Regions from separate parts of the Homo sapiens genome. Here region 1 is linked to region 2. Evidence: fine-mapped expression QTL. A gene starts in region 2. The other region holds a variant in brackets. All regions are shown on one strand. Distances are from middle to middle.

Region 1 (15,487 bases), 85 kb after region 2:
TGCCACTTCACTCCAGCCTGGGCAAAAGAGCGAAACACTCCGTCTCAAAAAAAAAAAAAAAAAAAAAGTAACATAAAGGTGTCCATAAACACAGTATAGACACATAATAGATGTTCTGTCCAGTAACTATCCTTTGAACATTATTATCATAACCACCACTTTGAGATTCCAAAGTCTTACCTCTGAGGCTGGGCTGGAGTTTTTCTTGATATGGCTGCCTCAACTTCCAGGGAAGAACAAGCATTTGACGGAATGGATTGTTCCACAAGATTTTCTTTTTCTGCCTCTTTGTAGTAAGTGTTGTCAACTGCGGAAGACCAAAAGCTAGTCAGCACTCAAAGGCCAAGGAAAATAATTGGAGATGAGACACACACACACACACACACACACACACACACACACACACACCCTGTCTAAGCCACAGAAACCTTAGTTCCAGTTAAATCTTATACAGAAGACCAGTTTATAAAAGCTACTTTGGTTGAAACAGAAATGATGTATCCAGGGCTTGCCTATTTGCCAGCCTAAGGTACTACCTTTAAAAAAAGCATCCCAAACACAATCTCATGACATTTCAGGACACTGGTAAAGATAAAATTCTGAAAGCTTCCATAAAGAAGAAAAAAAATCACTTACAAAGTAAGGAAAATTAGATAAGCACTGAATTTTTCATCAGCAATACATAAAAATAGAAGATAAAGGAACAATGTCTTTAGAGTAGTGATAAAAAATAATTTGCAATCTATAATGCTGTATTAAGATAAACTTTCAATTGTATATAAAAGTGAAACAATGCCATTTTCAAATATGTGAGAACTCAAAGTTTTTCTCTCCTGCACTAATTTAAGAAAGTTTCCTGAGGATGCACTCCCACATAATGAAGGAGTATATCCAGAAGAAAGTTATAAGGTCCAGGAAACAAGGCAGCAAAGATAGTAAAAATAATAATGCTCTCCCAAAAAAGTAGTAATAACTTCCAAGGATCATTGTCCAATATGAAGCAAGATAAAGTGTGGCAGAAATTTAAGAAATTGATAAAGTTTAAAGAAAAGCAAATCCACTGATCTCCTGATGTCAGAATCATCTTTATGTGGCTCAGGGGTTGTGACAATACAACCAAAGATAGCCAAAGAGTACCAAGAAGGGATGCAACTGCATCACAGTTATTGATCTGGCATTGAACAATATTTATATAATCATAACATTGTAAATACTGCTGATATAATCATACTATCAGGCATTATGAATGTAACCACAGCACAAGTTAAAATAGTGAGTTAAAACAGCTACTGGGAAGACGGAGGCAGGAAGATCACTTGAGCCCAGGATTTTGAGACCAGCTTGGGCAACACAGTGAGATCCCACCTGTAAAACAAAATATAAAAACAAACAACAACAACAACAACAAAACCAATATGAGTTTGAGAAAAAGGACAGGGGGTAGGGATGGGAAGAGAAAGGGGTTATTTTAACATAAACTCTAAGTATTGTTAGCCATGTTACCATGGCCATGTTTTATTTTGATAAACGTTTTTTTTTTTTTTTTTTGCTTTTCAATATTATATAAATAGAGATGGGGGTCTCAGTATATTGCCCAGGCTGGTCTCAAACTCCTGGCCTCAATCAATCCTCTCATTTTGGCCTCCCAAAGTACTGGGATTACAGGCATGAACTACAAGCCCAGCCTTGATAAACATTTTTAACGAAATAGAAAAAAAGTGTTATGGGAACACTGAGAAAGTTAGCCAGACATGGTGGAATGTGCCTGTAGTCCCAGTTACTCAGGAGGCTGAGGCAAGAGGATCACTTGAGCCCAGGAGGTCAAGGCTGCAGGGAGCTGTGATCATGCCACTGCTCTATAGATGGGGTGACACACTGAGACCCTGTCTGCAAAAAAAAAAACAAAAACAAAAAAACAAAACAGAATAAGAAACAAGTAAAGGCTTCATGGAAGAAACAGCACTTAATCACATAGCATATGAACTGACTCCTGATAAAGGAATTAAACTGCAACAAGATGACAGGGAAGAAAAGATAGGCCATGAAAACATAGTTTAGGCATTATTCATTTCAGAGAACAATCATTTGGTTCATCTCCTAAAGAAATATTTTTGGGGCAGAGAGACTCACACGCACACACAAAATAATAGCATAGCATGTCAAGGCTAAAATAGATGCATTTATTCCAATTAAAATGCAGCAACAATAATATTAAATAATAAAGCAAGACCCAATTATATGCTGTCTACAAAAAAATGCACTTTAAATATAGACATACCATGCTAAAACCAATCAAAAGAAAACTAGAGTGGCTATATTAATATCAGGCAAAGTAGGTTTCAGAGCACAGAATTTCAATGGGGATAAAGAAGATCATTTCAAACTGTTAAAGTGGGGCCAGGCACAGTGGCTCAACCTGTAATCCCAGAACTTTGGAAGGCTGAGGTGGGTGGAGCACTTGAGCCCAGGAGTTCAAAACCAGCCTAGGCAACATGGCAAAATTCTGTCTCTACAAAAAATACAAAAACTAGCTAGGCATGGTAGTGGCATCTGTGGTCCCAGCTACTCAAGAGGCTGAGGTAAGAGGATCACCTGTGCCCAGGAGGTAGAGGCTGCAGTGAGGCGTGATTGCTCCACTGCAGTCCAGCCTGGGTGACAGAGTGAGACCCTGTCTCAAAAATATATACATATACATGTATGTGTACATGTATGTACACATACATGTATATGTACATATATACACACATACATGTATATTAGATGTATGTACATATATATATGCTTGTGTGTATATATATGTGTGTATGTGTGTGTGTATATATATGTATATAATTTTTTGTTTTTGAGATGGAGTCTTGCTCTATCGCCCAGGCTGGAGTACAGTGGCATGATCTTGGCTCACTGCAGCCTCCGCCTCCCAGGTTTCAGCGATTCTCCTACCTCAGCCTCCCGAGTAGCTGGGACTACAGGTGCGCACCACCACACCCGGCTAATTTTTGTATTTTTCAGTAGAGACAGGGTTTCACCATATTGGCCAGGCTGGTCTCGAACTCCTGACCTTGTGATCCGCCCACCTCAGCCTCCCAAAGTGCTGGGATTACAGGCATGAGGTATCACGTCCAGCCAAAAAAAAAAAAAAAATTAAATTTAAATTAAATTAAATTTAAATTAAATTAAAGTGGCCAATTCATCAACGTGACATAACAATCCTAAACATTTATGCATCTAATAGTAGCTTCAAACTATATGAAGCAAAAATTATAAAGATAAAGAGACAAATCCATAATTACAGTCTGAGATTTCACTACCTCTCTCTCTAATTGATGGAACAAATGGAAAGAAAAATTAGTAAGAATACAACAGCCATAAATAATGTATAAGCAGGACAGGCGCAGTAGCTCACGCCTGTAATCCCAGCACTTTCAGAGGCCGAGGCAGGTAGATCACCTGAGGTCAGGAGTTCGAGACCAGCCTGGCCAAAATGGTGAAACTCCATCTCTATTAAAAATACAAAAATTATCTAGGGGTGGTGGCAGATGCCTGTAATCCCAGCTACTCCAGAGGCTGAGGCAGGAGAATCACTTGAACCCGGGGGGCGGAGGTTGCAGTAAGCCAAGATCGCACCACTGCACTCCAGCCTGGGCAACAAGAGTGAGACTCTGTCTCAAGAAAAAAAACCTAAAATTCACATGGAACCACAAAAGACCCCATATAGCCAAACCAATCCTATGCAAAGAGAACAAAGCTGAAGGCATCAAATTACCAGCCTTCAAAATACATTACAAAGCTATAGTAACCATAACAGCATGGTACTGGCATAAAAACAGACACACAGACAAATGGAATAGGATAGAGAACCCAGGAAAAAATCCACGTATTTATAGCCAACTGATTTTTGACAACAGCACCAAGAACATTCCTTGGTGGAGGGACAGTCTTTTCAATAAATGGTGCTAGCTTTGGGAGGCTGAAGTGGTAGGATTGTTTAAGCCCAGGAATTCTGAGACAAGCCTAGGCAATAGAGTAAGACCTCATCTCTAAAATAAAATTTAAATTTGAAAAATCAAAAAATGGTGCTGATCAAACTAGATATTTAAATGCAGAAAAATGAAACTAGACATCTATTTCTTACCATATACAAAAATCAACTCAAAATGGATTAAAGACTAATATGTAAGACCTTAAACTATGAAACAACTAAAAACATAGGGGAGGCCGAGGGCGGTGGTTCATGACTCTAATCCCAGCACTTTGGGAGGCCGAGGTGGGAGGATCACTTGAAGTCAGGAGTTCAAGACCAGCCTGACCGACATCACGAAACCCCATCTCTACTAAAAATACAAAAATTAGCTGGGTGTGGTGGTGCGCGCCTGTAGTCACAACTACTTGGGAGGTTGGGGCAGGAGGATCACTTGAACCCGGGAGGCGGAGGTTGCAGTGAGCCGAGATCGTACTACTGCACTCCAGCCTGGGCAACAGAGTGAGACTCTGTCTCAAAAATAAATAAATAAAGTAATAAAATAAAAACATAGGTGAAATACTTTAGGACACGGTTCTGGGCAAAGATCCTATGAACATGACCTCAAAAGTATAGGCAACAAAAGCAAAAGTAGACAAATGGGATTATATTAAATTTAAAACTTTCTGCACAGCAGAGGAAACAATCAACAGAGTGAAGAGACAACTAAAGAATGGGAGAAAATACGTGCTAACTATTCATTCAAGAAGGGACTAATATCCAGAATACACAAGGAACTCAAATAACTCAACAGCCGGACAAATGAGCTGAACAGACATCTCTCAAAAGAACACATACAAATGGCAAACAGGTATGTGAAAAAATGCTCAACATCACTAATCATCAGGGAAATGCAAATTAAAAATCACAATGAGATATCCTTTCATCCCAGTTAGAATGGACACTATGAAAAATATTAAAAATTTCTCTGCATCCCTGAGGATGCAGAGAAAGGAGAACTCTTATATATTGTTAGTAGTAAAGTCAATTAGTACAGCTATTATGGAAAACAGTATGGAGGCTCCTCAAAAAATTAAAAATATAATTACCATATGATCCAGCAATCCCCCTACTGGGTATATATCCAAAAAGAAGGAAATCAGTACATCGAAGAGATATCTATGTGCACTCCTATGTTTATTACAGCACTATTCACAATAGTCAAGATATGGAATCAACTGAAGTATCCATCAACAGATGAACAGATAAAATGTGGCATATATATATACAATGGAATACTATTTAGCCATAAAAAAGAATGAAATTCTGTCATTCATGGCAACATGGATGAACCTGAAGGACATTATGTTAAGTGAAGTAAGTCAGGCATAGAAAGATAAATATTGACCGGGTGCAGTGGCTCACGCCTGTAATCCCAGCACTTTGGGAGGCCGAGGTGGGCGGATCACAAGGTCAGGAGTTTGAGACCAGCCTGGCCAATATGGTGAAACCCTGTCTCTACTAAAAATACAAAAATTAGCCGGGCATGCTGGTGGGCGCCTGTAATCCCAGCTACTTGGGCAGCTGAGGCAGGAGAATCACTTGAACCCAGGTGGTGGAGGTTACAGTGAGCCGAGACTATACCACTGCACTCCTGCCTGGACAACAGGGTGAGACGCCAGTCTCAAAAAAAAAAAAAAAAAAAAATTAATTGAAGGAGGGGTGACAGGAGGGAGGTGAGAGTAGTCATATGGTGTGATGGAGACCAGTTTCAGATTTACCCACATAATACTTTTCAAATGTTCTAAACTGATAGGATGATGGTTGCACAACTCTGTGAATATACTTAAAAACACTGAAATGTTTATCTTAAGTGAATCATATGATGTGTGAGTTAAATCTAAATACAGCTGTTTTTTTCAAAAGAATCAATTTCAAGAAGGATTTTATGACCTCTTAAAGAATGCTTCTTATGTTCTAACCAAACAGACAATATTCTGCAGATCCAGTACCCACCAGTTTAAATGTCAATCATCTTTTACACTTGATCTTAGCCAAAAGGCCGAGAAGCGATCCATCATCTTTTAAAATCAGATACATAACTCAAAGAATTCTTGTACAATGGCAAGCAGTACAGTCTTCTTTCTTGCTGTTTTATTTCCCACCCAGACCCAGGTTAGGTTACATTAAATCTTGTCACAAAAAGATAACAGTTACGTATCTGGCAATAAAATTCTATGTTAGCCCCCGGGAACAGTAGCTCACACCTATAATCCCAGCACTTTGGGAAGCCCCTGAGGCAGGAAGATCACTTGAAGCCCGGAGGTCAAGACCAGCTTGGCTAGCAAAGACTCCTCTACTAAAATTTTTTAAAAATCAGTCAGGCATGGTGTTGAGCACCTGTAGTCCCAGTTACTAAGAGCTCAGGAGTTTGAGGCTGCAGTGAGCTATGACTGTGCCACTGTACTCCACCAGCCTGGGTGACAGAACCAGACCCCATCTTAAAGAAAAAAAAAAAAAAATTCTATGTTAGCTTAAGCTCCAAGAGATTTTTTTTTAAGTGTAGCACATCATTAGTTTTACATTTATCATGAAATGAATTAGCCCATTTCACCAATAATAAACAAAGAGATAGAGCATTTAGGTAATTTTCCCAGAACCTCAGGCTTCTAAAACACTGTCCCACCATTCTATCAAGGAGCTTTTTTCTAAGATGTTTTCTTACCTGGTTTCAAAGGTGTGACAATAGCTTGCTGAAGATTAGCCTTTCTCAAAGGAGTTTTGCCCTGAAAAAGCCCTCCAGTTCCATTCTTCCCCAGTAACTTATTCTCCAAATTGGCCTTCTCCTCTGTGAAAAGGGAAGATCATCATTGTC[T/C]GATCAGCAAGGAAGCAAAACAAATCACTATCACGCATTTAAAATGCAAACTAAAGCTCCCTACCAGTACACTTCCAACTCATGTGGCAAGTACAAGCAAAGTTCTAGCAATCAAAAGAAAAAGTACACATTACACATCCGAGATAGACTATAAGAACAATCACTAAAAACTGGCAACATTGAACAATGTATTATAAAAAAGGAAAAGTACAGATTCTGCATTGTGAATAACTCCTTATCTTTGTTTGGTACACATTTAGGGTCATACAAATATGAACTGGCTTTATCTACTCCCTAAATATATCATGTTCCTCTTAAAGAAAACTGTAACCAGCCGGGAGCGATGGCTCACACCTGTAATCCCAGCACTTTGGGAGGCCGAGGCGGGTGGGTCATGAGGTCAGGAGATCGAGACTGTCTTGGCCAACATGGTGAAACCCCGTCTCTACTAAAATACAAAAAATTAGCCAGGCGTGGTGGCACATGCCTTTAATCCCAGCTACTTGAGAAGCTGAGGCAGGGGAATCGCTTGAACCTGGAAGGTGGAATTTGCAGTAAGCTGAGACCGCACCACTGCACTACAGCCTGGCGACAGAGCAAGACTCCATCTCAAAAAAAAAAAAAAAAAAAAAACGAAAGAAAACTGTAACCATCAAAAACTGTAGGGCTTACAAGAGATACTGTATAGTCTTACAGAGTTTCCTCCTCAGTGGGGTGGTGGGAGGAATAAGGGGTGTGTGAGGGTAGAGCAGAGCTAGGTTCTCTCAAGAAATTTTATCTTAGATTCTACTGTGCCCAGAAGTCAGTACAAAGCAGTGAAGGGTCTGTTCTACCAACAGCCTACTGATAGTTTCAGGAATGCAGTGAGACACAGCAATAACTACCCTGTGCATGTACATTCTGATTGCAACTGTGTAGAAAGATGTGACTATTTATTTGGGAAAGAAATTGGAAAGTAATATATTAAAACTGAGGTAGTTTTGTTAGCCAAAAGAACTCTGGCAAAAACAAAAAGAAAAAAAAATAAAAATGTTTTAAAACTAAGGTAGTTTTGGAAAAATAGTGGGGTCATTTTTTTTCTTCCAAATTGTATTTAACAGTATTCTTAGGCTAATCTTTTCTTTTCTTTTTTATTTTAAAGAAAAGCTTAGAAAAAGAAATCCTCAGACAGCCCAGCCATTTCCTTACAGTTCCAGTGAAGCAAGGGCATGGGGAAGATCCCCGCAGGACAGCTGGCCCTTGTATTTATTTACCCTTCCTCCCACACCACTTCCAACAGACGACTCCTCTCAGGATCCCCACTAGATGCCATTAAAGTCCTTTTCCAAAAAATGGCACCTGTCAACACATTTGGACAGTGCACTATACGGATAAGTACAGCTGCAATGGACTCACTTCTGTTCCCCACCACATATTCATAGTGATTTCTCCCGATAAGGAGGATGGAGACATGAGAGAAAGAATCAAAGGGGCCTCAACAACTAGTCTCAGATATTATTTCAAAGTAATGTAAAAATGTAACCACATTCTTACTTACCATTGGCCAAGCAATACTGTTTCTGGGAATGGGTTCTTAGTAGCATAATCCTTCCATTTAAAAATGAATTGAGGGCCAGGCGCAGTGGCTCACGCCTGTAATCCCAGCACTTTGGGAGGCTGAGGTGGGTGGATCACCTGAGGTCAGGGGTTCAAGACTAGCCTGGCCAACATGGCAAAACACTGTCTCTACTAAAAATACAAAAATTAGTTAGGCATGCTGGTGGGCGCCTGTAATCCCAGCTACTTGGGCGGCTGAGGCAGAACCGCTTGAACAAGAGTGGCGGAGGTTACAGTGAGCTGAGATTGTACCACTGCACTCCAGCCTGGGCAACAGAGCGAGACTACAGCCTCAAAAAAAAAAAAAAAAAAAATGAATTGAGGGAGGGGTGGCAGGAGGGAGGTGAGGGTAATTATAAAAGATCTTGACTGTGATGGTAGACACATAAACCAACACAGGTGATAAAACCACAGAGAACTTAATACACATACAAGTAAAACTGGAGAAATCTGAGTAAAACTGGTAGATTGTATGAATGTCAATATCCTAGCTGTGATATAATCTATCCCTAATGATAGTAGACAAAGTTTTTATGTGGCTGCCATCACTACAGACATATTTGAGCATGGAGTTTTGTTGAACACTGGTTCATCTGAACTTTCCCATAGGTCCCTAAAGCTTAAATCTGCCATTCTGAACTACAAAACAACATATGCTTTGTACTTACAATCCATTCCCCAAATACTGGGCATTTCAATTATTCCCATAATATCATGGATGACAGAATGTCTTGGTGCAGAAAGAAGTTGATATTTTAGTTCTTTTCTTGCAACCCCTTCTATTATTGAAAGGTCTTCAGCACAAAGCAAGCCACTAATCCTTAAAATAGCCAGAGAAAGCAGGCACTTACCAAACCATGAATCTATGTTTTGAGTATCTCCTTCATCATCCAAGGATGAAAAATTGATGAAATCCGAGGGGGCATCATAGGAATAAGAGCTTTTAACTTGTGACATTGTCTCCCACTTAACGCAGAAGAGCAGGTTTTTCCCAGTATTTGTACCACTTTTCTCAGCAGGTCACCTTCTGAGGAAAGAAATGGTTGCACATAAATCTAAGTAAATTCCCATCATTACTTTGGTTTTACTACCACGTTTGTAATTTTGCAAACCACCTAGAATTTACTGAAAATAGCCTTACTTTGTCCAATCAACCTAAACATTAGTTTTTCAGGTAACTTAAAGATACTCCTTGAGGTAGATATGTTTGGAATTAGAAAGAAGTGGGCCAGACACAGTGGCTCACGTCTGTAATCCCAGCATTTTGGGAGGAGGGAGGACCACATGAGACCAGGAGTCCAAGTCCAGCCTACAAAACATAGACAGACCCTGTCTCTAAATAAATTAAAATTATCTCTAAGTATAACAGTTGACCCTGTCTCTAAAAAGATAAAAATTATCTGTAAGTAGTTGACCCTATCTCTAAAAAAATAAAAATTATCTTTAAGTAATCAGCAAATATAAAGAAAAACCAAAAAGAAAAAATTGAAATTAAAAATAAATTTTAGGCCAGGAGCAGTGGCTCACGCCTGTAATCCCAGCACTTCGAGAGGCTGAGGCGGGTGGATCACCTGAGGTCAGGAGTTCAAGATCAGCCCGACCAACATGGCAAAACCTCTTCTGTACTTAAAAAATACAAAAAATTAGCTGGGCATGGTGGCAGGCGCCTGTAATTCTAGCTACTCGGGAGGGTGAGGCAGGAGAATCGCTTGAACCTGGGAGGTGAAAGTTGCAGTGAGTCGAGATCGCGCCATTGCATTCCAGCCTGGGCAAGAAGAGCAAAACTCTGTCTCAAAAAAAATAATAATAAATAAAAATAAAATAAATAAATAAATTTTCTAAATGTTTTTTAAAAGAGGCAAAGTTTGATAAGTATCTACACTGTGCTAGGTGTTTTACATTCACCATGTCATTATTTTCCCTCAATTTACCATTTTCTCATTTCTAGCCTCCTCTAGCCCAATTTATTCTCTCTCTGCCCTGAATAACCCAATTTCTAAAATACACCACTAATTTTTATGCCTACCAACCAAAATCTTATCCATCATTCAAAGTCCAGGTCAAATCTCTATGAACTCTTTCCCAATTTCCACCTATCATACAAAATTGTTGCCTCTCCAAAGCCAATTGTGCTTTGTTTATATCTCCACTGTAACACTTATCATCCAATTTTATATTAACTATGTAAATGTCTCTCCCAGTAGACTCGAAGTTCCTAAAAACAAAGATAGATTTTACTCACTTGTGTATACCTCATCCATCCATCCATCCATCCAACCATCAAGGTGCTTAACACAGTGCATTATACATAGTAAGAGTTCAACACAGTTTTGTCAAATATAAGTTGTCTTTTCTTAGAAATATTCTCAAAAAATACTATTTCTGAGTATAAAGACGACAACTTTGAAATACACGTAAGAGTCACAACATGCAGCATAGGAACAGAAGCAAGGATAAGGGAACAAGTTAAATAGGCCCCTCCCTACTCCTGCGTACGAAGTTTTGCACTCTATCTTGTGGAAACCTGTGAAGGTTTAAAGTCAGCTCCTACTCAAGCCTAATCTAGTTAATAAAATAGCTGAAAGTAATCTGATAAATAGCCTAAAGGCCACACTCAGTGGCCAATAATTTGCCAATGAAACCCAATGAGCCATTTGTCTTTTTTTTTTTTTTGAGACGGAGTCTCACTCTGTCCCCCAGGCTGGAGTGCAGTGGCATGATCCCAGCTCACCACAACCTCTGCCTTCCGGGTTCAAGCAATTCTCCTGCCTCAGTCTCTAGTAGCTGGAATTACAGGCGCCCACAGCCACACCTTGCTAATTTTTTGTTTTCAGTAGAGACGGGATTTCACCATGTTGGCCAGGCTGGTCTCAAACTCCTGACCTCAAGTGATCCACCCACCTCGGCCTCCCAAGTGTGAGCCACCGCGCCCGGCCAGCCATTTGTTTTTATCCAGGGAACGACATGTACTTAAAAGTATCTGTATCTTAGAAGGGAGGTAGATGCCAGTAATCACTTGAATAAATGTTTATTTAAATTAATACCTTTCTAGTGTGGCGCAGTGGCTCATGCCTGTAATCCCAGCACTTTGAGAGGCCAGGGCGGATGGATCACCTGAGGTCAGGAGTTTGAGACCAGCCTGGCCAACATGGTGAAACCCCATCTCTACTAAAAATACAAAAAAGCGGCCGGGCACGGTGGCTCACGCCTGTAATCCCAGCACTTTGGGAGGCCAAGGCGGGTGGATCACGAGGTCAGGAGATCAAAACCATCATGGCTAAAATGGTGAAACCCTGTCTCTACTAAAAATACAAAAAATTAGCCAGGCGCAGTGGTGGGCACCTGTAATCCCAGCTACTCAGGAGGCTGAGGCATAAGAATCCCTTGAACGCAGGCAGCGGAGGTTGCAGTGAGCCAAGATCACGCCACTCTACTCCAGCCTGGGTGACAAGAGCGAGACTCCGGCTCAAAAATAAATAAATAAATAAACCTATAATGCTACACTATTCCAGATGTCTTCTCCCTCATATATATACAAACTATTATTTTTTTAAATGAATCATTGACAGTTTGAATCTGCTTCACATATTATGAATATTCTTGTATGTCAATAAATATAGACATATCAATTAATGGCTGTATCTGTTCCATAATTACTTATCCTTGATTTTCAGCCTTTTTCCAATATTTTCACTTTAAAGATACTGCTAAAGCATCATCCTTGTAGCTAAATTTCTGTACACATCCATAATTCTTCCCTTAAGATAAATCTTAAGAGGTGGAACTGCTGGGTCAAAAGCTCTTGACACATACTGTGAAAATGTCCCTCAGAAGAAAAAAACACCCACTTACATTACCAGGAGTGTGCCAGTTCCCCAAACTCTCCCCAACTCTGGGCACTGCAGCACTCATTTTCTCTAAACTATACCACATAAGCTATCCACTGAGATGAATCATGAGATTAGTTACTCCCAACCTACATAGCCGTTCAGTGGTTTGGCCAGCATTTCACAGCTTCTCTCAGTGGACTAGGGCAATTCAAAATGGACTAGGGGCTGAGAGTGGTGGCTCATGCCTGTAATCCCAGCACTTTGGGAGGACGCGGCGGGAGGATCACTTGAGGTCAGGAATTCGAGAACAGCCTGGCCAACATGGTGAAACTCCATCTCTACTGAAAATACAAAAATTAGCCTGGGGTGGTGGCTGCACCTGTAGTTCCAGCTACTCGGTGAGAATCACTTCAACCCGGGAGGCTGCAGTGAGCCAAGACCGCACCACTGCACTCCAGCCTGGGAGACAGAGCGAGACTCTGTCTCAAAAAATAAAATAAATAAAAATAATGTACTTCTGGTCCTTATAGTGTCTCAGAAACATCTGTTATTGTTGTTGTTTTTGTTTTGTTTTGTTTGAGATGGTGTCTTGCTCTGTCGCCCAGGCTGGAGTGCAGTGGCATGATCTTGGTTCACTGCAACCTCCACCTCCTGGGTTCAAGCGATTCTCTTCCCTCAGCCTCCCAAGTAGCTGGGGTTACAAGCGTGCGCCACCACGCCTGGCTAATTTTTCTATTTTTAGTAGAGATGGGGTTTCACCATGTTGGCCAGGCTGGTCTTGAACTCCTGACCTCAGGTGATCTGCCTGCCTCGGCCACCCAAAGTGCTGGGATTACAGGCATGAGCAACCGCACCCGGCCAGAAACATCTGTTATAACAAATATTTCATTTATACAGTGACATCAATCTAGACCCCAGAGAACATCATCTTCCCATGGTCTCTCCTATGCTCACTGCAGCCAGAATTCCACAAGTATCTTTATAACAATGCTCTAATTGAGGTACTTAGTGTAGAAACATGATATTTTAGAATTGGGAGGAAACTTTGATTAACACCTAACCTTTGCAGTCTATAAGATATTAACTTAAAGCAAAAAGGGGTTCTCCAAGATCACACAACAAAAATCCTAAGGATCATGGTAAAAACAGTTACCAGAGGTGTTCATTACATGCCAGGTGCCATGATATACTAAATATGTATTCTTTCTGATATGCAAAACAATCCTGTAAAGCAGCAATTATTCCCAACCTAGAAGCTGAAGATCAGAAAGATTAAATGACTTGCCCAGTATCACACAGTTACGTAAAAACAGAGCCAGATCTGGACCTGAGGCTCGTGACTTCAGCACAATGTTCTTTCTACATCCTTCTGCCCTCTTACCTTGTGAATTAAAGAAGGGTGTTCATGAAGTTAAGCTATTTGCATAGAAAAGAATACTGTATTTATTTCCAAGTAAATCCATTCTCCATAGTCTTCTGTCTGGAATAGGGGTTCTTTGGTATCCCCAGTCTAAATTTTCCTCTCTCCTCCATTTCTACTTTCATTATTAAGCTTAACTCAATAAGCTTTTTGTCAGTGGTTCACAATAGTGTGTACTTGCTAGGGGCCATAAGCTGTGTGCCCTTGAATGTTTCTCAGTAACATTCAAGGATGACACTCTATATCTTCACACAAAAAGTAGATCTAAGCGGCCAGGCTCAGTGGCTCGCACCTGTAACCTCAGCACTTTGGGAGGCCGAGACAGGTGGATCACAGGGTGAGGAGATTGAGACCATCCTGGCTAACATGGTGAAACCCCGTCTCTACTAAAAATACAAAAAGAATTAGCCAGGCATGGTGGCGGTCACCTATAGTCCTAGCTACTCAGGAGGCTAAGGCAGGAGAATGGTGTGAACCCGGGAGGCAGAGCTTGCAGTGAGCCGAGATCACGCCACCGCATCCAGCCTGGGCAACAGTGCGAGACTCCGTCTCAAAAAAAAAGAAAAAAAAGTAGATGTAGTCCTGAACACAAAGGAACTTAACATCTACATAGACGCTAAGGTCCTATCATACACAATAAATAAGACAGTTTGTTTAAATTATACAGTATGAACTCTAAGTATAGAGAATTAGAAATTAACATGGCTGAAGTCAAGGTACGATTAAATATTTTTCATTGACCATGACCAAAACAGTAGCAAGTACATTAAAATGGAAGTTACCTCCTGATAGCCACTTTCCAAGCTTGGGGTAGCCATGGGACAGTTCTGGCCAATGAGAACTAAGTAAGAATCTGCTGAGGGATTCCTAGGAAAAAATTTTCTTTCCTGAAAACAGCTATAGCCCTTATTCCTGCCCTTTCCCTTTATCCTTCTTCTTGCCTTGAAGGCAAGCTGGAGCTATGGCAGTCATCTGGTATACATGAGTAGATGGCCAAGAGAACAATAAACATAGGGCTTAACATCAATGAGCTAATGACTATTAAAGATCAAATATCAGCTACTATATACCTCTAGACTTCTGGTGTTTTTTACAATTTTCCATGACCTGCTAAAAAGACTTCTTATACTAAAAAAAAATAGGCCAGGCACGGTAGCTCACACCTGTAATCCCAACACTTTGGAAGGCCAAGGCAGGCGGATCACCTGAGGTCAGGAGTTCGAGACCAGCCTCACCAACATGGTGAAACCCTGTCTCTAATAAAAATATAAAAATTAGCCAGGTGTGGTGGCAGGTGCCTGTAATCCCAGCTACTCGGGAGGCTGAGGCAGGAGAATCACTTGAACCCAGGAGGCGAAGGTTGCAGTGAGCTGAGATTGCGCCATTGCACTCCAGCCTGGGTGACAAGAGTGAGACTTCATCTCAGAAAATAATAATAATTATTGTATAAACCATTATAGCCACATTTTCTGTCACCTGTAGTCAAAAGCAATTCCAACTAACAGAAGTCCAGAATGCCCTCTCTGGCATTTACCACATGTATATGACAATAGGCAAGTCACTAATTCTCTGCCTACCTTCTTACCATAATCAAATAAGAAGCTACTTCAAGTGCTATGAAATACACTATTGTAAGGTATTATCACTGCTGATACCTTTCCTCTCCTTGACCACATTTCTATTCAAAGGATTTTTAGTGAAAGATTCCATGGTACTGACAGTGGTTAAAAACCCCTTGCTGCAAGGAGGAAATTTTCCTTTTCTTGTGAACAAATATGCTAGAAGACATGGGAAAATCTTGGATTCCC
Region 2 (15,487 bases):
TAGAAAAGGAGGAAACTGGCTGGATGCAGTGGCTCACAACTGTAATCCCAGCAGTTTGGGAGTCGGAGACAGGTGGATCACCTGAGATCAAGAGTTTGAGGCCAGCTTGGCCAACATAGTGAAACTCCATCTCTACTAAAAATACAAAAAATTAGCCAGGAGTGGTGGCGGGTGCCTGTAATCCCTGCTACTCAAGAGGCTGAGGCGGGAGAATCACTTGAACCCAGGAGGTGGAGGTTGCAGTGAGCCGAGATCGCACCATTGCACTCCAGCCTGGGCAACAAGAGCAAAACTCCATCTCAAAAAAAAAAAAAAAAGAAAGAAAGAAAAGGAGGAAACTGAGGCCAAGAAACAGGTGGACCTTGCCTGAGGCCATACAATGAGCTGGGGTACTCATCTGGGATCGTCTAAATTGAGGGGGTTCCTCCTGGGGCCCAGGGAATAGCAGGCTGTCTCTTGCTTGATGCAGTTACCAGGGCCTGGGCGCCCCCTGAAGAGGTAGGCATGCCCTTTAGTCCGAAGGAAGCTCCTGGGAAGTGGCTGAGCCTGCCTGCAGGTCAGACCTGCTGAGTGTGTTCTTCCAGCCCCTGCAGCCTTGCCAGCTCAGTCACCTCTCAGCAAGTCACCCACTGGCCCCACCCTCTCTGGCTATGACCTCCAGCACCATCATTTACCTCATCCCTCCAGAGCACCAGCTCCAGCCCTGTCCCCATGCTCCCACCCGCTCCACCTTTTTCTACCTCTCCTGCAGCCCTCCCTCCATCTGCAGCACCACCAGGCCATTCCCTTCACCTCCACCATCTTCAGTTTCATTGCCCTGTCTGCAGCCACCCCATCTTCTCCACATTCATTCCTTTGTCCTCCTTGGGTCCATCACTCCACCCCCATGCACCCCATCGGGTCCAGCTCCATCACCTCCGGCTCCCTCACTGTTCCCATCAGCTCTGTCTCCCTCATTCTGTCTGTATCACCCCTATTATCTCCACCCCATCACCTTTCCGCCATCGTCGACAGCTCATTGCTCTGTGCTCATCACCCCCACCCCCGCATCAGCATCTGGCTCTGTCCCGCATACCTTTCATCTCCAGCTCCCTCACCTCCGCATTTACCCCCAGCACTTCTCTCCCTATCACAGTGACCCATCTCTGGCCCTAATACCTACAACATCTTCATCAACTTTCTCTTTACCTCCATGGGGGCGGGGGAGTTTGAGCTCTGAAACTTCAAAGTTCTTTTCTCAAAAGCCCAGTGCCATAATATTGACTTCTAATACATTGGACAGCCAGCCCTTTTACTCAGAAACACTGTCAACCCCAGCTGGCCTTCAGTCCGCCCAGACCTCTCTGCACTGGTGGGAACAGTCTGGGAATTCCTGAGGAGTCACAGGCCTCCTCTCCCACCCTCACAGCCTCTTCTCCCAATGCTCAGGATGGCTCCGGATTTGCCACAGAGGATGAGGACAAGGAGTGGCCCCACAGGCTGGCCCAGCAGGGTTCCTTACTACCACCCATCCTCCTCCAGGCCCTTTGGTTGACCACAGTAAGGACTGGGTCTCCTCACCCAGCCCTGCCTCCTCCCTGGCCTCCTCCTTATCTATGGGTCTGGGGTCAGGGTGAGATGGTGCCTGACTGCTTCCTCTCCTTCACCAGGGTGCCAGACATAGGACCTCAAAAACCTCTGGTGCCCAATGCCCTCCGATGACTTCAGCAACCTGGTAAGGAATCGAAATCCCCTCCCCTCCGACCAGTGTGCTGAACTGGGGACGGCCGCGGGGTGGGGCCAGCCCACCTCTCTCTCCCACCCAAAGCACCCAGCCCAGGCTCCCAATAATAGCCACAACAGTCAACATTTCCTGAGGGCTTAGTTTATGCCAGGCACCCTTCCAAGCTCCCCACAGCCCCCAGATGCTGCTATTATTCCCATTTTACATATGCCCAAACCAGGACACAGAGGTTAAGAACCTTGCCTGAGGTCACACAGCTGGTAACCCTGGGAAAGCTCCTAAGTGGCAGTGATAGACTAGAATCCGAGGGCCTGGCTGCAGAGCCCACAACCCTAACCACTGAGCAGGATTGCTGGTTTCTCATGAGACGCTGCTAGGTTGTTGTTATTGTCGCTGTTATGGTTATTTCTACCTGCATCAAAATCTTTGCTGGGAGGAAGCTCCTAGAATCCCAGAAGATTTGCTGGGAGGGTCATGCCCTCACTGTACAGATGGCCCCAGCTTTTAACCGCAGAGCTCGACTATCAGTTCGTTTATACTGGAAGCTATTGTTTACTACTATTATTACTAGAATTCTTATCATCACTGATAGGGAGAGAGCACCCAAAATTTCCGAGGTAGAGGCTGGGACGACCTCTGGGTCCGGCAGAGTTTGAAGGGGAGGGTAAGAAGGCGAGGGGAGCTAGCGCCGCCCACGTCCAGCCCGTGCACCCTCTCTCGCCCCACAGCCTGCTGGCTGCACGTGTGGCTCTTCTCTCCGCAGCGCTGGTGCGCGAAGCCACCGGGCGCACAGCCCAGCGCTGTCGTCTGAGTCCGCGGGCGGCCGCCGAGCGCCTGCTGGGGCCGCCACCTCACGTTGCAGCAGGTTCGCTTCCCCGACCCATTGCCCAGCGCCCACGTGTTGCAGGGCCTGCCGCCTCACCTGGAGCGCGGTGTGCAGCTCTGGGTGGCTCCGGAGGGCGTGTTCACCAAGCGCCTGTGCCAGGGCCTGTACTGGCGCAGCCCAACAAGGTGGAGCGCAGGCGCACCTGCCACCTGCTGAACACACGCGGCTTCCTCCAGGCGGTAGGACGGCTGGAGGAGTGGAACAGAGTGGCGTGGGAACGGGGGCATAAGGACGCGGTGGGCAAAGGAACATGAACAGAGGAGAGTGGGCACATTAAATGCAGGCCCAGGGGGATGGGCCTAAGGGTGCTGGGCATGAAGTGGACATTGACACAAAGAATATGGCACAAAAGCACCAGGGATGGGAAAGAATACAGGCACCAGGAGGGCTGGGGGCACATATACGGATACAGGCGTATATGGGGTGCTGGCATGGAGAAGGCTTGAGGCGTTGGGTGTGCAGCATAAGAATAGGGCTTCGGTACATGTGTTGGCTTAGGGCATAAGGTGGATGTGAGGTGCACCAAGCACGAGATAGGTATAGGTGAGTGGCAGTGGGCATGGGTTGGGCATAAAGGCATGGGGTGGGCATAGGGGCCAAGGAAGAGACATAAGACCTGGAAGTGGGCACAGATGTGGGACATGGGACAGGCATAGGAACGTGGAAGTGGGCCTAGGGTACAGGCACACAATGGGATGTGGGCTTACAGGACTTGGGCATGGGAAATGAGCACAAGATGGGCACCAGTGGGTTGCCTAGTTCTTGCCCAGTCCCTATAGTCTCAGTGTCGTATAATTGTGTGCCCACCTGCAGGATGGTCACCGGACCCAAAGTACCAGATCTGTCTGTGCTTCGGTGAGGAGGACCCGGGCCCCACACAGCACCCCAAGGAGCAGCTCATCATGGCGGACGTGAGTCACTCCTTCCACTCCAGCCAAGAAGCACGCCCTCCAGTCCCCTCCAGACAGCCCTTCCCACACTCCCTCCAGTCCCAGCTCTGCCTCTGACACTTCTAGCACCCTCGGGTCTGTAGGACCCTACCTGGAAAATGGGGGTAGGGATGGGGCTGTAACTAGGGCTGTGACTTCCCATGGGAACATCCGAGGCGGGAAATGGAGAGGGTCTGCTCATCGCCCCACCCGCCCCCGCAGGTGCAGGTGCAGCTTCGGCCTGGGAGCTCGTCCTGCACTCTAAGTGCCTCAACCGAGCGCCCAGATGGGTCCTCAACCCCTGGCAACCCCGATGGCATCACTCACCTTCAATGCAGCTGCCTCCATCCTAAGCGAGCCGCTTCCTCTTCTTGTACCCGCTGAAGGCAGCCCCCAACAGGGGGGCTCCCTACTCCCACCCAACCCTGCCCACACTAAGCCCATAGACTTGGGGCCTCCCCCGGCACATCACCCAGGTCTGCCGGACGGCAGAGGTGGATCGCGGCCTTCCACTCCTCTGTCACGGGGCCCCGGAACTCGAGAGTAGGCCACACCGCCCCCCAGCTGGGCATGGGGCTTCGGCAGGAAACTGAACTTGATCTTGAGGCCCCAGAAAGGCAGCAACTGGAGCAGAAGCAAGACTTCATCTCTTGCTGACAGCCCAATTTGTCAATAGCGCTTTCCTCAGAGCCAGCCTTAACCTGCTGTTGAGTCCATTAAAACGTTTGCTTAAAGTTTTTACCAATAATTAGATCATCAGGGTTGTTTAGTGTGGGATCAAGCCATAACAAAACTGCCTAGCCTCTCAGGGGCCTAGAATTTACAGAACCTTCCTCCTCCCTGCAGCTAGTCTCTCTTCTTTATTCTGGGGGCTGGGAAGGATCCCAAAACAGGGAACTTGGCCGAACCCTGGGCTTTGGATGCTAACCACTGAAGTACCAGCACCTGTAGGATGCTGTCTTTGAAGAAACTGAGGCGGACCTCCAAATGCAGCCCTAAGGCAGAGGTCAACGTGGAAGACCAGCCCTTCTCCAAGCCCCACTGGTCTTTGCAAGCTGTACGTTGTAGGCAATCTGAGAACTGGAAAGGGGGACTACAACCAGAAAGTTGGTTACCCTGCCATGGGAATAAAGTAGCTGTTTTCCACCCCACATATCAGGCCTTTTATTCTTTTCTGAGTTCTGATTTTATTTATAGGAATCCTCTTACAGATGCCAATATTGTAAGTCTCTTTTAATGATACATTAATAAGCCACCTTCATGGGGGGAAAACTGTGATTCGATAAAGGACAGAAATCAATCAATTGCTGTTTGTTTAGTCATTTAGCAGACATTTCTTGAACACCTACTCTGTTCCAGGCCTCTGTTCCAGTGTCCAGTGTGTGACTCTGGGGGTACAGCAAAACAGCATGCTCTTTACTCTCTTGGAGTTCACATTCTGTTTTCTAGTGGGGACCCAGCGACTCTCCGCTACCCCTGCCCCTCACTGAAGAGGCAGTATTTAGGAATTACAGAATCCTAGGCTCATATCCAGCTTTGTCACTCACTAGATGTGGGACATCAGGGAATTTACTTACCTTCTCTGAGCCTCAGAGCCCTCATCTATTCAAAAGAAGCAATGAAGCCCTCCAGAGCAGGGTTGGTTGAAGAAGTAAGTGTAGGGTTGGGGAGGTGAGCTGGCCTGGTACAGAGTGGGTGAGCAGTGACTTGGGAGTGGGAGAGCAGAGAGGATGCCGTCCCCTCCTCCAGAAGGCCTGACTGTTCTGGGCCTGACTCTCTGGACCTCCCGACCCCAGGCTGCAGCTGGGGTAGCCTCAGTTCAGAGTGACAATCCGCAGCCATGTTCATATCCCTACTCCATACTAGGCTCTTGATGAGGGTGCTGCATTCTGTGTAAGGGGAACCTGTTGCCTCCCCACCATGGCCTGGACAGCTGAGGAGTCACCAGCTCCATGTTAGAGATGGGGAAACTGAGGCTCAGCCAAGGTCTTGAGGTGCCTCTTGGGAGGGAGAATGTCTCTCCCCAGATAGCTGTCCTTCCCACACCAGTCACTAGGGGGCGACAGGGATGCAGCAGAACTGAATTTCATGGGCTCTCCTTACCATCCTAGGTGCCCCTCCCTGCAGACACCCCAGAGCTAGGAGGATGGGGTAGGAGTGGTGTGGCCCCAAGGCCTCTGCACCGCAGGAGAAGGCAGTAGACCACAGGCCTGGGAGAAGAGGGAAAAGCAGGAGTAGAGGTAGGGATTAGAGAAGCCCCTGGGGCTTCTCTCACTCTAGGGGGACTGGGCTCAGGCCCTGCCTCTCTCTCCTCTCTCTCTCTCTCTCTCTCTCTCTCTCTCTCTATTCATTCCTTTCACTCCTTGTGTTTGCACCTGTGTCTCTCAGTATCTCCTTTCTCTCTGGCTTTGTGGATTTCCTTGTTTCTGCCTGCTCAGTGATTCTCACTTTCTCCGTATACTACGTGTGTGTGTGTGTGTGTGTGTGTGTGTGTCTGTGTCTGTGTCTCTGTGTTTCTGTGTGTGTATGTCTCTGTGTGTCTGTGTATGTGCTTGTGTGTGTGTCTGTGTGTATGCCTATGTGTCTGTGTGTGTCTGTCTCTGTGTATATGTGTGTGTGTGCTTATGTCTGTGTGTGTGTGTCTGTGTGTGTGTCTGTGTCTGTGTGTCTCTGTGTGTCTGTACGTGTATGTCTGTGTGTCTCTGTGTGTCTGTACGTGTATGTCTGTGTGTCTCTCTGTGAGTGTCTGAGAGGCTCTGGGTGTCTCTGTCCGTTGTGTCTGCCTCTGTCTTATCTTTGTCTCTCCCTCTTTCTCCCTCTTGTGATGTCTCTACCTCTCTCTGTCTCTATCTCTTTTTTCCCTGTCTCTGTTTCATATGTTTCTGCCTCTGTCTCATTTTGTTTTTGTCTCTGTCCCGCTCAGTTTCACATCCTGTCCCTCCCCAGCCACCACCACCCAGCACACGTGGGCTGAGGGTCTCAGTCCCTTCCTTCCCAACTCCTCATCCCTGGCAGCTGCTCGGCTTCCCACTACTGGCCTCTCCTGCCCGCCTCTTTTGGGCCTTGTGGGAGTGGGGCGAGGGAGGAGGGGAGGATGGCTCAGCAGACCCACCCCTTTTTGCCTTTCCAGGCTGGGAGGCTGGGCCAGTGGACCTTTTAACCAGCCTGGGCAGGCTATTCCGGACGCCAGCCCTGGAAGCTGAGCCTGACCCAGCAGGTCCCAGCAGCCTGGCAGCCCGGCCAGCATGCAGCAGCAGCCTCTGCCCGGGCCTGGCGCCCCCACAACTGAGCCAACCAAGCCTCCCTACAGCTACATCGCCCTTATTGCTATGGCCATCCAGAGCTCACCGGGGCAGCGGGCCACCCTCAGTGGCATCTACCGCTACATCATGGGCCGATTCGCCTTCTACCGCCACAACCGGCCCGGCTGGCAGAACAGCATCCGCCACAACCTGTCACTCAACGAGTGCTTTGTCAAGGTGCCCCGCGATGACCGCAAGCCAGGCAAGGGCAGCTACTGGACGCTGGACCCTGACTGCCACGACATGTTTGAGCACGGCAGCTTCCTACGCCGCCGCCGCCGCTTCACCCGGCAGACAGGTGCTGAGGGCACCCGGGGCCCCGCCAAGGCACGCCGTGGACCCCTCAGGGCGACCAGCCAGGACCCAGGAGTCCCCAACGCCACGACCGGCAGGCAGTGCTCATTCCCACCAGAGCTGCCAGATCCCAAGGGCCTAAGCTTTGGGGGTCTGGTGGGGGCCATGCCAGCCAGTATGTGCCCAGCAACCACTGATGGCAGGCCTCGGCCACCCATGGAGCCCAAAGAGATTTCCACGCCCAAGCCTGCATGCCCAGGGGAGCTCCCCGTGGCCACCTCATCTTCCTCATGCCCAGCGTTTGGCTTTCCTGCCGGCTTCTCAGAGGCTGAGAGTTTTAATAAGGCCCCTACGCCCGTCTTGTCCCCGGAATCAGGCATCGGGAGCAGCTACCAGTGTCGGCTGCAGGCACTGAATTTTTGCATGGGGGCTGACCCAGGCCTTGAGCACCTCTTGGCCTCAGCAGCCCCCTCCCCTGCACCACCCACCCCTCCAGGCTCACTCCGGGCCCCACTGCCCCTGCCAACTGACCACAAGGAACCCTGGGTTGCAGGTGGCTTCCCTGTCCAGGGAGGCTCCGGCTACCCATTGGGGCTGACCCCCTGCCTATACCGGACGCCAGGAATGTTCTTCTTTGAGTAAAGGCAGCCTCACCTCGGGCAGTCCCTGCAGGTCCCTCACCCTCCGGGCTGAGCCTGGCTCTAGGACCTGAAGAACTCTCGAAGGACCCAGCCCTGGTGAGCCAAGGACAACCACACAGAAAGCCAGGATTGAAGCGGTGCTCAGCCAGGCCCCTGGGGCCTCCGGACAAACTTGGGGGTGAGGGGAAGCAGGGCCTCTTGGGATTTACTCTGTGGCTCTCAGGGCCAATAAAGCCATGTGATGATGAGGGTCAGCTTGCCTGATGGCTGGGGGCTGAGGGCCAGGGTGCCTGCTTGTATGTGGGGGTGGCTGTGGCTGTGGGGTTGTGCAGCGGGGGCAGAGACCCTTGGTGGGAATATCTCACATGAGGTTTTCTCCTGCTGGGGACTTTCTCAGGGAGTTTCCTAGAAAGGGAGAGGAAGGGGAGGTAGGGAATGGGGAGCAGGGAGAGGAGGATACAGGCAAGGGAGAGACTGGGCAGGGGCAAGACTGGGCTGGCCTGAGGGACTGATTCTCCAGTCTCAGATGCTGGGACTTAGCCCCCGTAGGTGCAGTCATCATAACCCTGACAATTTGTGACACTGATCCTGTCCCGGGCTTGTATGTATCATCTCACCTGTGTGATTTGGAAAGTTGGCCCCGTTTACAGTGGTGGAAACAGGCTCGCCAGCTCCAACTCCAGAGGGCAAATGGGTGGCAGAGGGTAAATCAAAACCACATCTGTGTGGCTCTACCCTCCAGCCTCTGACCTGCAGCTTGAGTGAGGACATAAGGGTGGAGAAGAGGGTCAGGGCAGAGCTGGTGGTGGCCCCCAGAGGTGGGAGGGCTTTGCTGCAATCCTGGAAGGCCAGGGCTAGAAAGGCACCCTTTACCCATTGTGCAGACAGGGCACCTAGGGTTCAAAAGGCAGCACCTACCCCCTGTTTGGACTTCCCACATTAATGTGGGAGCTTCCCTGAGCCCCCAGCTCCATGAGGTCCTCTGGTGACTCTTTAAGACGGCATTTCTTGGGGCCAGCAGCATGGGCTGTGACTGTCCTAGGTACCATTCAGAAGTGACTGAGCCCTGACCTTTGACCTTCTCTGACTATCCCTTCGCGAGGAAGCAGGAGAAATGGGGATATTCTTGGTCCTCGTTAGAGGAACAGAGAAGGAATCTGAAACATCGCTGTCCTCACAGACCCCAGCACTGGAGGAGCAGAGGCGAATGGCTTCCTCCCCAGAGCCTCAGTCCTCCTATCTGGATCATGGGCATAGGGAGAGGAGGGAGGGATGCTGGGGCACCCCCATTCTGGTTTTTGGCATGTGGTCTAGAGTGTCTTATGTCCCACGAGGTTACACTCAGGGGGCTGGAGACCCCTTCTTGGGCAGGCAGCCCTCTCCCCTCCAGAGGCCCTCCCTTGCCCAGGCAGCCCCGAGGACTCCAGCCTTTGCTGCTCCCTCCTCCCCCGACAGGTCCCCTGGGGCCTGGGAGGAAGCGAGCCCGGCTGGACAGCCCGAACTGTCTGGTTCCCACAGTCTCAGAGCTGGGGTGGAGGAGGACCTGCAGGGTGAGAGGGGCTGGGAAAACGCCTGGCCAGCTGTGGGGCCCCTCCCCACCATGCCTGCTGAACCCCAGCCTGGAACCCATCAAACAATGGGGAGGAGGAGCAAGGGTCTGTGCAGCCTCCTATGGGCAGCTTCATGGGGCAGAGGGAAGAGGAAAGGCCCTCTGTGTGCAGGGCATGGTGAGGAGGGGGAAGGAGGCTCTTGTGTGAGTCTGTACCATGGCGTGTGCCTGTGTGGATCAGTGTGTCTCAGGCTGCGTGTGTGTATATGACAGAGAAAGAGAGAGATGCAGAAAGACAGACCCTGCAGAGGCAGACAGACAGATTCAAAGGGGTGAGAGTTCTTTCTCAGTTGGGTCAGGGAAGGAGGCCTCTGCTGGGCGCTGTTCCCGTTGCACATTCCTGTGGAGCCCTGGTGACCCCAGTCCCTTCCCAGCCTGGGTTCTGAGCTACTAGGAGGATGGGAAGCCGGCTGGGCTGGGGGAGCCCAGGCCTCTGCCGCTGTACTCCCCAGCATCCCCCTGAATCAAGGAAGTTTAGCTCTGCACTAGGGTGGGGACTTGTGGAGAAGGAGGCTGAGTCTCCTGCTCATCCCTTGCCCTGGGGGAATGTGCGAAAGGGTTGCCCACATGCAGGCTCAGAGCCCCCTCTGCACATCTCCCTCTGGCCTCCGACATAGTCATGAAGAGAAGACAGGCCCCCTCAGCCCCAACCCCCCAAGCAGGACCCTGGACTCAGCACATGCCTTGGACTCACTGTATGAGCCTGGACCAGTGCCCACCTCTCTGCGTTTCACTCCCTTTGCCCGGTGGTTGTGGGGAAGGGCAGCCTGACTCACGGTCTGAGTCCCAGGAACGGATCTGACCTGGAGGAGGTCCCTTCTCTGGAGGTGCTGGGCAAGGAGACACCATGATCTCATGCACCCTTGGCTAGCTGCCCAGCCCAGGGACCCCACCCACGGGGCCTCCTGCCTTCACATTCTTTCCATGACCAACATTCACCTCCGGCTCCCACCTGACCACCCTCATCTGGACAGGGGTTGCGGGGACAGTGAATGCCTCTGTCGACCCAGATAGAGCCCCTTGGCACAGATGGAGAGACCAAGGCCAGAGAAGAGAGGTAACATGCCCAGGGTCACATGGCAAGGCAGGAGCAGAGCCGCTTCTCAGCCCATCCATGGCACCCCCTCTGATGCCTTAATGTAGCTCTGGAGGGGAGGGATGGGGCCATCTCGTTGGACCAAGGACCTCCTCATAGGGAGCGTGTCCATCTCTAGGAGGGAATCCCAGTCCCCATTCCTCCTCTTTAGCAGGTGAGAGCAAAAAAGGTTATTGAGACCCTTACAGAGTTAGACGAATCAAATCCTAAAATGGCAGAATCAGAATCTGAAATGAATATTTCAGAAACTTCCAGAGTTTTTAATCATAGCAACTCAGATTCCTGGAATATCAGAGCCGGAAGGGCATCTCCTGCCCGATTTCTGAATCCTCTCTACATTAAAATGGTCGACATCACATGGGGTTCCAGGAACTGGGAGCCCACTGCCTTTCCAGGTGGCCGGCCCCTTCCCACAAAAGTGTGGTAGCTCTGAAAGACCATTAGGAAGCTTCACCTGCTGGGCCTCGGCCTTTGTTCTCCCAAGAGAGGAAAGGACTCCTGGCCCCTGGGAAGGCCACCCTCACCCACCCACAGGGCTGGCCTTAGCCAGCCCCTCCTCCCCGATGCTTTATCTCCAGCCTGCTCCCTGCCCACCCCCTTCCTTCCCTGGTTTATGGCATTCCATGGCCCAGAGTTAGGCACTCCTGCCCACACCCCAAACAGTGCCTTGGCCGAGGGGAAGGAGACCCTCTCCCTTGGAGGGCAGGGCCCTGCAAGGCTGCCACAGTGATGAGAAAAAGCCGGGAGGTTGTATCGGCCAGCCTGGCATGCCGCCTGCTGGGAGAGTATGCAATCCAGGAATCCAGGCCTCAGCCAAAACATCCCTTCCACACCCAGACTTCCATCCACCCATGGACCAGGCGCCACGTCCTAACTGTGTGACCTTGGGCAAGTTGCTTCCCCTTTCTGGGTTCCCCCCATCTGTAAAATGTGGACCCTAACAGTACCTACCCCCATGATGTTATTGTGAGGATTACATGAGTTAATACTGGCAAAGTGCTTAGAACAGGGTCTGGCACATGGCAGCTACAATATCAGTATTTGTTGGCCGGGTGCGGCGGCTCACACCTGTAATCCCAGCACTTTGGGAGGCCAAGGCAGGAGGATCACTTGAGGTCATGAGTTTAACACAAGCCTGGCCAATAGGGTAAAACCCTGTCTCTACAAAAAATACAAAAATTAGCCGGGTGTGGTGGCACATGCCTGTAGTCTCAGCTACTCGAGAGGCTGAGGCAGGAGGATCGCTTGAACCTGGGAGGCAGAGGTTGCTGTGAGTTGAGATCATGCCACTGCACTCCAGCCTGAGTGACAGAGTGAGACTCTGTCTCAAAAAAAAAAATAAAATAAAATAAGTGTTTGTTAAGTACAATAAATAGGTATTTGGGTACTGGACATGTCTCCCTTAACCTGATTTATGCCCCAGAAGAGTGTCTAGCTGCTGTGGAGGCAGGAGGACAGGATTTAGGGGGAGGAAGGACTGTTACACAGACAAGGCTTTTGACTCAGTTCCTGGCATCTTCACTTCCTTGCTGTGTGACCTTGAGCAAGTGGATTCACCTCTCTGAGTCTCAGTTTCCTCATCTGTAAAATGGGAGCAATGATTCCAGTCCCCAGGACTGGTATGTGGAAAGCCTTGTCCTGCACACTACCTGTACAATTCAGTCAACAGGAATGAAATTAGAATTAATAAAACAACTCCGTTGGAGGACCTCATGCCCTCAGCGTAGTCCTCTCCATCTCTCCCTTCACACAGGGCAAAACCCACATCTTCACAGGTCCAGAGGTGCCTAATCTCTTGTTCCCACACTTCTGGTACTAGGTGGTGACTCAGGGAGGCAGCTGGTGGGGCAGAAGGAAACGGTTCCATGGCTAAAAACAGGCCACTGTCAGCCAGAAGCCAGCCTGGTGTCCCGGGAAAGGCCAGGGCTGCCTCCTCTTGACCACAGCCCTCAGGGCCAGTTTTGAGGTTGCCCTGAGCATACAAACAAGAGAGGGCTGACCCTCCCACTCCCTTAGGACACTTGCCTCCCCGTGAGTTTCTTTTCCATCTCTAGGCCTTTGCAGCAGCTGTTCCCTTCGCCCCCACTGGCTGCCTCTCTACATCCACCACCTACATCACATCACCTTCTCTGAGAAGTCTTCCTGCACTTCCTTATCTAATTGGATGCCCCCAGATTATTCTCCCTCTGCATCCCATTTATGTTGCTGACATAGCATCTGCTGCAATGTAGAATCACGCATGTGCACATGTACTCATGTTTTATTGTGTCTCTGCCTTAGAATGTAAACTTCAGGGGCCAAGGGTTGGGTCTGCCTTATGCGTTTTGTCATCTTCCCTAACTCGATGACTAGCACATAGTAGTCCCTCCATGAAGGTTTAGGAGTGGATGGATGGAGTCATGGTCACCATTCATTCATTTGCCATGAATTAAATCTCAAGGCTGGGCACGGTGGCTCACGCCTATAATCCCAGCACTTTGGGAGGCCAAGGCTGGTGGATTACCTGAGGTCAGGAGTTCGAGACCAGCCTGGCCAACATAGTGAAACCCCGTCTCTACTAAAAACACAAAAAATTAGCTGGGCATGGTGACGGGCGCCTGTAATCCCAGCTACTCGGGAGGCTGAAGCAGGAGAACCGCTTGAACCCAGGAGGCAGAGTTGCAGTGAGCTGAGATTACGCCACTGCACTCCAGCCTGGGCGATGGAGCAAGACTATGTCTCAAAAAAAAAAAAAAATTCTCAAAGACCTCCCCAACAAGGCTCCCTGTTTCGTTAATAGGCAAGGGCCACTGTGGTCTGGCCCCAGCTCCTCCTTCCTTCCCCCTCACTCACTCCAAGCAGCCTGTACACTGGCTCTGCCTTATCTTCCGTGAATGTCCACAGGCTTCACTCCCTCATATCCTCCAGTTTCTGTTCAAATATCCTCAGAAAAGCCCTGCCTGGCCACCACATTCCCCATTTCCCCCACCACTAACACATTCTAAATTCATTATTGCCATTCAGTGTGTCTCCCCCACTGGCATGAAGCTTCACCAGGCCAGGAATTTTTGTCTATTCATTGCTTGTCTCCAGCACCTAGGGCAGTGTCTGGAACATAGCCAGGGCCGGAGAAATAGTTGTGAAAAAAACATAAGCTCAGTAGCCTGTACCAGGCTCCACCTACAAATCCCATGTAACTTTCTCATTATCCTGGGAAGCAGGTACGATTCTTACCCCATTTTACAGACAGGAAACTGAGGCTCAGGGAGGGCAAATAAGTAGGTACGAACCCTGTTCTGTCTGACCTGGAACCCAATCTCTCTGTCATCAGCCTATCTGTCTAGAGGCATCTCCCCCATCTCCTCCCCACAGCTAACAGCCTCTCAAGCAGACATGGCTCAGCCTCCACCGGGTGTCCCTGCCTCCAGCCTCTCTCTCCCATTCACTGACCTCCCTGGCTGCAGGGATCCTTTGTAAGCATGGATCTCTGACCTCCCTTCCACAGCTCCCCATTGTCCCATGTCAGCCTGCCATTCGGGCTCCTGCTAACTTCTCCAGACCTATTTCCTGCTTCGTCTCATGCAAAAGCCCTACTGGCCTGCTCCAAGATGAGCTTATACTCAGCTGCAAGTCTCTGGACAGCAAGCAGTCCCCTCTGCCTGGAACACCCTCCTCACTCTCTGTCTGGAAAAGCCCTGCTCCTTGTGTGCCCTCAGCTTGGATGTGACTCCCACTGAAGAGAAGAGAATAGGGGTTAGTGTCTCCTTCCTGTTCTCATGGTTTCATGAGATTCCTTCCAGCTTCACCCTGATCCCCATCCTCCCACTGGGGTTCCAGAGGCTGTGAGCTCCCCAAGGGCAAGGGCCATGACTCATTCATCCCCAGGCTCTCGCTGGGGGCCAGGCCCAGAGCTGGGCTCAACAAATGGTTGTGAAGTGGTTGCTGTGTGGGAAGTCAGATGGCCTGCCTCACATCCTGATTCCCCTATTCATCAGCTGGGAGCCCATGGACTTGTCCATACACTCCTTGTGCCTCAGTTTCCTCATCTGTGAAATGTTGATAATGAAAATACCTACTCATAGGGTGGGGACAAAATAAGTTAATTGATGGGAATCACTTGGTATAGTGCCTGGTGGCCAATAAATATTACCCATTAACATGAAGGAAGAAACAGATGCGTAGGCAGCTTCATAGGTAGGAGATGGTCCAGGTGGGCACATCCTTCAGGACAGCCCTGGCTCCTCCATGCCCTCGGCGCAGCCCTATCACTGGCTGAATCTTTACCTACCACTGTCTTATTGGGTCCAAGGTGGCCAGTGGAATACAAGGCCACTGGACCCAGAAAGGGAAAGGCAGTGTCACCAGCCCTGATGTAATCCAAACCAGATGTGGGCTTAGTGGCTTCCAGACCTGTGGGGGGTGGTCACTGTGGGCCTGGCTAAGGCCTTGAGGCAGGAAATGGTCTTGGAGGAAAGCTCTCTGGGCTGGGACCAACTGGGAGGAGCACTCCCATTGACAGTGTTAATTAACCCTTCTTAGCTTACAAAGAGGGCCCAGGACCCCGTTCAGGGGAAGCCCAGGCACAGAGGTGCCTTGCAGGGGAAGAACACAGCATCAGCGTTGAGATGGACACTGAGCAGGAGGGGCCCATGGCCCTGGTGCCTGTGGTGGGCACAGCAAACCATGCAAGGGACAGGGAAGCTCAGCCTGACACCCAGAGAACTGATGCCCTGGGAACCCTTGCTCAGTCCTGGTCCAGCTTGGCAGTCCCAAACCAGCTATGGTCTCCCGCCCTCCATCAGGGCAGCTCCTAGCGTGAAAAATCTTTCTTTCTTGTAGCTGCCAGGGATGGGAGCATTCTTGAAAGCAATGGGGCTGGGGCCTAAGCCTGCAGAGAGGCAGACCCAGCTGTCCACAGGGGCAGTGGCTGCAGCTTTGCCCTGAGTGTGCTCCGTGGCCCTCAGTGGGAACAAGGTCTCTCTGAACCCACATTCCCCCTTCCACATTATTGAATCTATACTCTCTGCC

Which allele goes with the higher level. Alleles are on the strand shown, and positions count from the first base shown. SD is a standard deviation of normalised expression in the study named.
As copies of C replace T in region 1, the expression in esophagus muscle of the gene that starts at base 6,722 in region 2 goes up (small effect, 0.23 SD a copy in GTEx).

What was found. PIP is the estimated chance that this variant, and not a neighbour inherited with it, causes the effect. A credible set is the group of variants that fine-mapping cannot tell apart.
Region 1: its variant is the best candidate, but not a certain one, in a credible set for the expression of FOXS1 in esophagus muscle (GTEx, PIP 0.83).

The regions. Positions count from the first base shown.
Region 1 is chr20:31,751,376-31,766,862 of GRCh38, reverse strand. TPX2 (TPX2 microtubule nucleation factor) reads right to left here. Exons shown (of 18, transcript NM_012112.5): 3 at 9,281-9,456; 4 at 6,684-6,806; 5 at 181-307. The coding sequence starts at 9,386. Among named protein-coding and RNA genes, the nearest start is that of TPX2, 20 kb to the right of the region's middle. The variant T/C (reference allele first, on the strand shown) is at 6,834.
Region 2 is chr20:31,836,839-31,852,325 of GRCh38, reverse strand. It overlaps FOXS1 (forkhead box S1), which reads left to right and starts at 6,722. Exons shown (of 1, transcript NM_004118.4): 1 at 6,722-8,023. The coding sequence starts at 6,784. The coding sequence ends at 7,776. It also overlaps a transcript of DUSP15 not described here. RefSeq lists enhancers at 6,781-7,338, 14,437-15,284.